Regions from separate parts of the Homo sapiens genome. Here region 1 is linked to region 2. Evidence: fine-mapped expression QTL. A gene starts in region 2. The other region holds a variant in brackets. All regions are shown on one strand. Distances are from middle to middle. Region 1 overlaps SPTA1 (spectrin alpha, erythrocytic 1). Region 2 holds the start of SPTA1 (spectrin alpha, erythrocytic 1).

The links. PIP is the estimated chance that this variant, and not a neighbour inherited with it, causes the effect.
Region 1: its variant is fine-mapped to the expression of SPTA1 in subcutaneous fat (GTEx, PIP above 0.99). The same link has a PIP of 0.9 or more in breast.

The regions. Positions count from the first base shown.
Region 1 is chr1:158,652,302-158,657,691 of GRCh38, reverse strand. It overlaps SPTA1 (spectrin alpha, erythrocytic 1), which reads left to right. Exons shown (of 52, transcript NM_003126.4): 19 at 1-215; 20 at 1,036-1,128; 21 at 2,944-3,081; 22 at 4,267-4,418; 23 at 5,039-5,225. Among named protein-coding and RNA genes, the nearest start is that of SPTA1, 32 kb to the left of the region's middle. The variant A/G (reference allele first, on the strand shown) is at 2,703.
Region 2 is chr1:158,683,871-158,689,260 of GRCh38, reverse strand. It overlaps SPTA1 (spectrin alpha, erythrocytic 1), which reads left to right and starts at 2,546. Exons shown (of 52, transcript NM_003126.4): 1 at 2,546-2,767; 2 at 3,914-4,153. The coding sequence starts at 2,744. RefSeq lists a cis regulatory region at 1-125 and a silencer at 485-699.

The sequences.
Region 1 (5,390 bases), 32 kb after region 2:
ACTTTGCTGCAGAAGATGTGGCCTCTAGGGTCAAGAGTTTGAACCAGAATATGGAGTCTCTCCGTGCTCGAGCTGCTAGGCGACAAAATGATCTTGAAGCCAATGTCCAGTTCCAGCAGTACCTGGCTGACCTGCATGAAGCAGAAACATGGATCAGAGAGAAGGAACCTATTGTAGATAATACTAACTATGGTGCTGATGAAGAAGCAGCTGGGGTAAGGTGGGGGTGGGTTTAACATTGTGAATCCTCAACAAACGCAACCAAATTATCAATTTAGGGTTTGCTTAGGTTGTGGGACAGCTACAGATTCTGCCAGATTATTTGGGGTTTCCAGAGTGGTCGCCGTTGGCCTTCATCTGCTGAGACTCCCTCAGAGTTGACAGGAATCCCAAAAGATATGCTACATTTTTCTCATCCCATGGAGATTCATATACTCTTTAGAGATTATCTAAATCAAAAAAGTGTGATCAGAGTCATAGTCATAATCCGATCCTAAACTTTCCAGAGTAACCTTGAGCATTTATAAATTAATCATGGTTTTAAGATAGAGACACCTTAATTACTTGATTAAAATAAAATTGGACAGATATGTTGGGGCAAGAAGAACCACAAAGGTTATAATCACACTTTTTATCCATTTATTTGTTTTGCACATTGTCCCATAGGAAGCTGGTATAGTATTTCACAAACCTTTGGAACTAGAAATTATTGGTATGCATATTTTAAGTTACACTAATGTTTATCCTATAAAGTAACAGTATCAACAGCATCCTCTTTTCAGCTATAATCTGTGTTGATAAAAATACTTTTGCAAGTTTGAGTTAATTTTGATTTTAGTAAACATATTGAAATTATAATTTATTAATTCCTATTTCCTTCATGCTTGCAAATTTAGGGTTAAAAATAACTTTATGATAGATGGAAAGCAGCTTTTACCAGGATTTAAGACAAATAGCATAACCCAAAATAATAGTAGTTGAAATAATAGTGTTCCTCCTATATTCATTCTGATGATCTTCCATCAATAAATGCAGGCTCTTCTAAAGAAGCATGAGGCCTTTCTATTAGATCTCAATTCATTTGGAGACAGTATGAAAGCTCTGCGGAATCAGGCAAACGCCTGCCAGGTAAGACTAACTTAGCGATGACAGGATTCACACTTCCCACCACAAAGAAAAAGAAATTGTCTTTATTGCTGATTTTTTACTTTCTACAACCCCAAAAACAATGGCAAAGAAAACACTAAGTTCTATGACCCTTGTATGCAGGAACTGTAGCATCCACAATTTAGTCCAAAGGAGACTTTGTCCAAAAGAGGTTTTTGATAAATGGTATCATGTCTTCATTGATGTATTTTTGGCTTTCCTCTTTCCTTCCTTTTATATTTCTACCCTTCTTTCTTTCTTACTTTTCTTCATTTATGTCTCTCCTTCTTATCTTTCTTCTTTACTCCCTTCTTTTGTTTCTTAATTTTTAATGCCAAAACTTATTAAATGTCTACTATATGTAAGTATGAATAAAAAATCCTGATTTGCAGGAAAATTACAGTCTATTAGGAGGCCAGATGTTTAACAGTAAGTGCATATAATAGATGTATGAACAGGACAAAGAGTCTCAAAGAAAGGCCTCTTGTGTTCTCTTGAAATAACAGTACTGGAAAACAGGAAAATTTTTGTAAGCTAAGGGAAACCGCCTGATCTGAATTATTAAGGAAAGACAGATGGGTAGTTTACTGTGCAGAGAAAGAGGATAAGCGTTTTTCTAGTCAATAAACCATGAGAGCAAATGCACTGAGGCACAAAACAATCAAGTTTTGTGGAAAATGCAATTGGTTAAGAATGTGAGAATGGAAGATGCAATTGGTTGAGAATATGAGAATGGCTCAGGTACAGGGCAAAACTGGGTGTCATGAAGATTAATTGAACTGGAATCAAATAAATGTTATAACAATGTCTACTATATGTAGTGGTAGAAAAAAAGAGACACACTTCTTACCTTCAAGGAATTCTTTCTAATGAGAGGTTGTTAATCCACACATTCAGAGTAAACAAAAGACGTAGACTCAGTCTGTCAAATCAGTGTATATTTACAGACCTCCTATACTGTGCCTTCACCAGGCTCTGCACAGTGGGTGCCTAAACAAGAACAGAAGGATTTATATATTGTGTGGTATGAGGAAACATGTTACCTAAAGGAGATGAAATTAGAGGGCTCTGTCGGTGGAGGTGCATATTCAACTCCAACCTGAGGAAGGGGTGGGTCATTCCTTAGGAAGAGGGGTTATGTTTTGCTTGATTTCTCAGAGACATGAAATTGGCAGAAAGTAAAAATCAGAGAAAATTCTACCTTAGAATGCAGGCTGCTTACTAAACTGAGACACAAGATACTTTTAATGATCTCAGTTAATGTTCTCAGTTTTTAAAATTCTGTGGCCTTTCCTGTGCTATTGATCACTCATATCTCAAATAGAAGGTCCGGAGCTCCTGACATAGTAACTTAAAGGCCAGAAGGAGTGGGAAGAATTATCACTGGAGGTACAGGGAAAGGTGACGACAGAGAGTGGGTCTTTTCACTTTCTCAAACAATTTTTTGAAATGTTGATGTGTATAATCCTGTTGGACCTTCTTAAGGGAGTACACTTCTTAAAATGTACTCCTCCCATTTTAAGAACTGATGGCTTAGAGCATTTAATACGTTTCTG[A/G]CAAATTATGTATTTCCTTCCTTGCTTTGGGTTTATAGTTCCCAACCTGCCTGTCCCCGATAAGTGTCAGAATGGAGCAGTCTCTCTGAAGACCACATACTTTAATCTCTGCAGCCACGTAAGAGGTTCCAGCCAGAGGCTCTTTTCTCCTGGGAAGCCTAAAGGACTACTCACCCCTGGTAAGCTGTACAGGGAGATATTTCCAGTGCGTGACTGACACCTGCTTCCTGTTTTTATTCAGCAACAACAGGCTGCACCAGTGGAGGGAGTTGCTGGAGAACAAAGGGTCATGGCTTTATATGACTTCCAGGCCCGCAGCCCCCGAGAAGTCACCATGAAGAAAGGTGATGTCTTAACGCTGCTCAGTTCCATCAATAAGGTGACTTTTCCTTCTAATCTTTCCATCAAAAAGTGGCTCTTTCAGAACCATCTCTCCCAATCCTGCCAGATATTCATATTTTTACCATCTAACATTTATTTTATTATTTTATTTCTTGAATAACTATAACTGATTAGGTAGTATTTTTCCTGTAGATATTTTGCAGGATCCTACACATATCTTTTGGAATTATAATCCCAATGTTGCAGTTAAAATCATAAAGAATTGAAGTTATATAATTAGCCCAAAGATATAGAAAGTATGAGTGGAAATTCTATAATATATTTAAAGGGCTAAGCTGTCTCTTTCTTTCTTCCTCTTTGCTTGTTCCTCTTCTGTGCCAGTATTTCTAGTGATAAAATAACAATGTCTGGGGTTAGAAGGAGCCTACCAAAAGATGAGTCTTTTGTCAACTTGATTTTCTTTAGATCTTGTGCCTGGAAGAACAGTGATAAAATATTGGTTGAGATTTTTAAATATATTTTTCATAAAAACTGAAGTAATTTTTTATACTCTGATACCTAATTAATCTACAAAAATTCTTAAGAAGAAAAGAAAATAGTTTGGGCTATAGTTATTCCAAAGACAAGTAAATGTTTGGAGCGGCAGATGTTTCATTATCAAATAATGTGTGCCAGTCCATTTTTTCTTTGTCTAGGCCTCTTCATTATTTTTTGAGGAAATTAGCCTCAGGGTTTTGGTAGATGTGGCAACAGTTCAAAAATAAAAAATAAAGTAACACTCAGGTATATGAATGTCAGAGCAATTCACATTTTTCAGACCTCTGCAAGAAGAATAGAAGAGAAGAATTTTTGTGCAATATCCTCTTACACAGACGCTCCACTGCCAAGAAATCCAGCTAGAGCCTGGCTCCATGTGTTTTTTGTAAATTCCTCATGAACAAAGTGCCCCATCATTAAAAGAGCTGTCTTGGGTGTTTGAAAATCTCTCCAAAGTTAAGGGTCTAACATTAGGTATCAGATTACTTGATTTCAGGGGCTTGTCTATGCAATTCTTCATTTCATTTCTTGGTCATATATGAAAATTATGTGCCACTCATTAGACATGGTTAGCTTATCTTTGCCATTAACCTGTGCCTGGGCCAAGAGACTTAGTGTTGAAGTCTCTCCCGTTTGTTGCTTTTCCAAGAATTAATGACGGAGTGGGGATCTGCTCTCCCTTCAGGACTGGTGGAAGGTGGAAGCTGCTGATCATCAGGGCATTGTCCCAGCTGTCTATGTCAGAAGACTGGCCCACGATGAGTTCCCGATGCTCCCACAGCGGCGACGAGAAGAGCCAGGAAACATCACCCAGCGCCAGGAGCAGATTGAGAACCAGTAAGTTCTGGAGCCTGGAGAACTGAACAGTATTTGGTCAGACATTTTTCGCCAAAGGCATTTCTTCTCATGACCCTGCATCTGTTAGATTTGAGATGCCACAGAAAATCTGAAGATTTTAAGAATCGAAAGTAAACCTAGAATCTTTTAAATGTTTCGGTTTCTTTTTGAGGAAAGGCAACCCCAGAATCATTCCATCAATTTCCTGAGGTCATACACTTCACAGAGCTCTTCTGATTCCCTGCCCCACATTCTTTCAAGGTTATTAAAGTCTCCTGACATCTATATGAACTTTGTTTACTATGCCAGGCTTTTCATATCCAATTGTCAGTTACCATGTAAAAATGTCACTTTTATGAAATGGGAAAGGAATGTTGCCAGTCATACTATTGGGTCACTGGCATTTTTACTATTTTTAAATGCAATCCTATGTGTTTATCTTTTTGCCCCCAAGGCTGTTTTCCTTCTAAGTTTATTTCCTCCTCTCTTCTACTATTCTTTTGCTTTTGATTTGTTTTCCCTTTCATTTTTGTTCCTTCTTTCTCTATGTTTGTCACTCAGCCTCTACTCTTCTGTATTTTCTCCTTCTTTTATTCCACTTTTCCCAATTCTCCATCCAGATACCGCTCCCTCTTGGATCGGGCAGAAGAACGCAGACGTCGTCTATTGCAACGTTATAATGAATTTTTATTGGCCTATGAGGCAGGAGACATGCTGGAATGGATTCAAGAGAAAAAGGCAGAAAACACTGGAGTGGAACTAGATGATGTTTGGGAGCTGCAGAAAAAGTTTGATGAGTTCCAAAAGGTGAGAAAGAGGAACCTTCTCTTGAAGGTTGCCATTGTTTGCTTTTATCCCTCAGCATATTCTACATGATCTTTTAATTTATTTCACACTTGTTAAATATTCTCCCCAAAGCTATTGGCAACTCTGTGGCTGAGATCTCCCTCTAGGTATTGTAGTTGCTAATAA
Region 2 (5,390 bases):
TACAAACCCTCCCTGAGGTGATAACCATGGCCAGATACAACAGCCCTCCAAATTATCCCCATCCTTTTAAAACTGTATAAAATACTAAATATATAATTCTTATTATATATGATAAAAGTCATAAAGCTTTTTCCTTGTGTTTTTTTTTTTCCAGGAGTTTTACAGTTTCAGGTTGTAATTTAAGTCTTTAATCCCATTTGAGTTGATTTTTGTACATAACATAAGGGTCCAATTTCATTTTTTTATGTGAATATGCAATTTTTCCAACACATATGTTGAAAAGACACTTTTATTTCCTTATGATCAGTTCTGCTGATTGGGCCATGCTATTTCTTTTTTTTTAAAATAAACATTATAGAATTAGTAAGCATTTTTACTTTCTTTTTATTGTGATGATTTTACTTTAGTTCTAGGACACATATGAAGAACATGCAGGTTTGTTACATAGGTATACACATGCCATGGTGGTTTGCTGCACCCATCAACCCGTCATCTACATTAGGTATTTCTCCTAATGCTATCCCTCCCCTATCCCACCACCCCCGCAACAGGCTTCAGGGTGTGATGTTTCCCTCCCTGTGTCCATGTGTTCTCATTGTTCAACTCCCACTTATGAGTGAAAACATGTGGTGTTTGGTTTTCTGTCCTTGTGATAGTTTGTGGAGAATGATGGTTTTCAGCTTCATCCATATCCCTGCAAAGGACATGAACTCATCCTTTTTTATGGCTGCATAGTATTCCATAGTGTATAGGTACCACATTTTCTTTATCCAGTCTTTCACTGATAGGCATTCAGGTTGGTTCCAAAGGGCTAATATCCAGAATCTACAAGGAACTTAAACAAATTTACAGGAAAAAAACAAATGACCCCATCAAAAAGTGAGCAAAGGATATGAATAGACACTTCTCAAAAGAAGATATTTATGCAGTCAGCAAACATATGAAAAAAAGCTCATCATAACTGGTCATTAGAGAAATGCAAATCAAAACCACAATGAGATACCATCTCATGCCAGTTAGAATGGCGATCATTAAAAAGTCAGGAAACAGCAGATGCTGGAGACAATGTGGAGAAATAGGAATGCTTTTACACAGTTGGTGGGAGTGTAAGTTAGTTCAACCATTGTGGAAGACAGTGTGGCAATTCCTCAAGGATCTAGAACCATAAATACCATTTGACCCAGCAATCCCATTACTGGCTATATACCCAAAGGATTATAAATCATTCTACTATAAAAACACATGCACACATATGTATATTGTGGCACTATTCACAATGGGCCATACTATTTCTTTGGTCACAAGGTTATCACATGTTTGGCATTCTTGCTAAGATGATTCTGGAACAGGGAAACAGAACAAATAATGTTGATGGACTAAGAGAAGATTGACTAAAAAAATAAGGAGCAGAGTGCCATGATAATCATATTGATATGGATTTGACTATTTAAATACTTTCAAACCAAATCACCATAGAATGAAACTTTGTTTTTTAGGGACTGTTTTCTCACATAAAGACGGGTATGATAATACCTGCCTCACAGAATTTTTAAAGATTAGAAATTAATGTAAATTGATCATGTTAATATATAAATATTTCATAGATGTTGATTCTTTTCTCTTAAAGATAAAATAATTTCCTCTCCTTATCCCAACTTCAGACAAATATTCCTCAGTGCATGTGTTATAGTGCAGTCTCTAAAATTATGTTCCTGCCTTTACTACTAAATTTGACTTGAATATAATGAAACTATATGGAAAAGTAAAGTAATCCAGACTTTCAAGAAGAGAATGTAAAGGACTCTCAGTTTTTCTATGTGAGATCCAAGAACAGGGGAAACCACAAATGTAGAATCAAAATCTTCTCTTGTAGATCATGGAAGTTAGATTATTCAAGCTGCATTTACACTGGAATGAAGTTTGGCATGGATAGCCCCACTGGCTTGTAGAAAGGTCTAAGAGCATCCCACTATTTTCTTTTTGCTTGTTTGTTTCATTTTTGTAAGTTAGTCTAAAATAACTATGCCTATGGAAAAAGTCTACCTCTTTTTGTTCTCCATTAAAATTAATACATACAGTAGGATGATTTATACCATATATATCAGAAGTCAGCCATATTTTCAACTTTTTTGTGACATCATTGGTTTGTCAAATAAGGTATCCTAATTTTTGTTTTACAAAATATTAATGAACACATCATATAACTTTTTTTGTTCCTTCCATTTAAATGATTAAGAGTACAACTAAATCAGATTTTTAAAGACCAAATTGTTGAGGTTAGGAATAAAATCTTATTTTGTGAAAGACTCTCTAGAAAAAGCCAGGATAATTCGTTGACTTAAAGACTGTGAAAAATCTGCAGTTGAGTTGGATGAAGTTGTTGAGCTGTATTTCCTATAAATATATGGGGTTTTTTTTCTAATTTTTCATCCAAAAACCTTACTTTCATTTTTTAAGTCTTATTGAGTAACTTTGAAAGCCAGAGCCTCCCAAAACTGCTGAGTCACCCAGTATCTGTAAAACTTAGCAGTTGCCTCAGCTGAGTATGTCTTCTAAAGATAATGTCGATTGTGTATGGCTGATGGGATTCTAGGACCAAGCAAGAGGTTTTTTTTTTTCCCCCACATACTTAACGTTTCTATATTTCTATTTGAATTCGACTGGACAGTTCCATTTGAATTATTTCTCTCTCTCTCTCTCTCTGACACATTTTATCTTGCCAGGTTCTAAACCTTTAGGAAAAATGGAGCAATTTCCAAAGGAAACCGTAAGTACATATTTCTCTTCCATGCAATTTGTCATTAATATTATTAGGAAAGATGTTTCCTTTAAACTTTCTATACTATCTTTCCCAGGAACATTAATAATTATTTGGCTTTTAACAAATAGATAATTTTACTTTTAACTATTTTTTGTGAACAATAACCTTGAGCTTATGTCTGTGCAGCACCAAGACCCAGTAATGACTTAAGTCGGTTCCCAGAGAGAATAAGTAGGGAGATTGAAGCTAAATAACACCTAGTAACAACGTGAGTCTCCATGTAATGATCTAATTCTATAGCCATGCCAGTAATGGCAATTCACAGAGTAGCAATTATACTTAGGAGGAATAATGGGAGATTAAAATTTAAACTCTATATTAAACATTTTGGCTGAGGTAAGCTAGGGAAAATGGTATCCATATCCAGAAGAATGAAGGTGAACCCTATGGTGATTTTGCTGGATATTGTCACAAACAGGTTGGCTCCCACTCTGGGAAAAGGATACTTATATATTGTTTTAGAGTAAAAGTTTTTATATTTCAAAAATAAATTGCAGACATGCTAATAATTTGAAATTTGTGACAATTGGGCAGAAGATAGCTGAACTTTTGATTTATAGTGTTTGTGAGTAAAGCAAGTAAAGAGTAAATATATGAGATTTATTTTTAAGTATGAAGGAAACAAAATTTTCAAACTGTTGCATATATCATTAACTAAATTAATTGCAAGCCATTCTTAATTATTTATTAAATTAAGTTAAAAATAATAAGCACTTCTCAACACCTTTTTAGCCCTTGAAAGCAATAACATTATATTTCTTTTTATCTATCTGAAATTATGTGATTTTGCTGATTTAAACTTGCTCCATGATCAGTCCAATATAATTATATCTATAGAACTTAAATGCTAGCACAAATTTATGTAAAAAGTGAGGAGAGTCTTCTGGATAATCAAGAATTTTTAACCTAAACAGAAGCTATGTCTGGTTAAAAATTACGTAAATATACTACAGCTCTTCTGACAATAGTCCCTAGAAACTTCAGGATATCTGAATATAGGTCCAACATGAGTAAACACCTTGACACATATAAGCGGGGCAACATGTTAAATATTTGAGAACTAGCAAGTAACAGAATCTTTTTAACTTGCAGGTTGTGGAGAGCAGTGGGCCAAAGGTTTTGGAAACAGCAGAAGAGATCCAGGAGAGGCGTCAGGAAGTGTTGACTCGGTATCAAAGTTTCAAGGAGCGGGTCGCTGAGAGGGGTCAGAAGCTTGAGGATTCCTATCACTTACAAGTTTTCAAGCGAGATGCAGATGATCTGGGGAAGTGGATCATGGAGAAAGTCAATATCTTAACCGATAAGAGCTATGAAGACCCAACTAATATACAGGTCACTCAGTTCTCTTGATTGCCTCAGAGCAGACCCTAAGATCTCTAGAGAAGGAAATAGGTTTTTCTTTATGTTAATGTTAATGGGTATGTGTGGGTACAATTAGATTCCGTTTAGAAACAAAAATAAGTCAGTGGAGTGGGAAGTTAAAGAAATAAATTAATAGAAAATCTAAAAGTGCATTTTCCCTTATGAAGTTGGAGAGGTGAGACTGAGAAAATAAGAATCAAACAAAAAGCAGCAGTTTTTCAGTTGTTGAAAGCACAGAACTGTTTTTTACAATGAACTTCCATTCAGAATATACATTTTTTAATCATTAACCAAGGATATTGCTTATTGATAAGGGCATAGGATACTTTACATATTTTCATGGTGAAGCATTCATCAATGCCAAAAGTAAAAAATTACATCAATTTTTTTTCAGATCCAGCACAAATATTATGGTAATGTAAGTGTATATCTGGTTAATTGTAGTGGGAGTGATGTAATGGAAAAATTAGACTGTCTGTTAGAAACAGTAATTCTGCCTCTAAATAGTCCATGTCTTCATCTTCATAAACATCGGGGTGTTATTTGCAAAGGAGATTTATTCTGTATAGAATTTGATGGTTACAATACTCATCTGAAATTGACCTACAGGCAAAACAGCAACTGCAAATTCAAGAAATTTCTGACAAACCATGTGATTTTTGATATTTTGGGACATTAAGAAGGGAAATAGGGTGAAGAGTCATCAATGCTTCTGAAGCAACTGTCCTCCACTCTTCTCAGAAATATAAGAGTTAACCAGGTTAACTAAAATCCAATTTAGTTAACCTGGTTAACTCAATTGCTATTCATGGCTCTTAAGTTTTTCCTAAAATGTTGTTCATGGGTCTCAAGTTCTAATGAGAGGTTTCAGTAGAAGTTTGGTGAAAGCTCCTACGCGTTTCTGATCACCTAAAATTATAGCATGTGATACCTGTTCTCTACTCTTCTCAGAGAGATGAGTTAACCAGAGTTTTTTTTTTTTCTTCCCTAAATTGCTATTCATGGCTCTTAACTTCAAAAGAGAGGTTTCAGTAGAAGAAATTTGGTGAAAGTGCCTACCCCTTTCTATTCACCTAAAATTATAGCATGTGGTGTTGTCATAATCAGAAGCAATTGATGTTGGACAGGAAACACCTAGAACAAGAGCAAAATAATGTGCTATATTGAATGGATCAATTTATAGATTACAAGAACAGGCACAGCATGC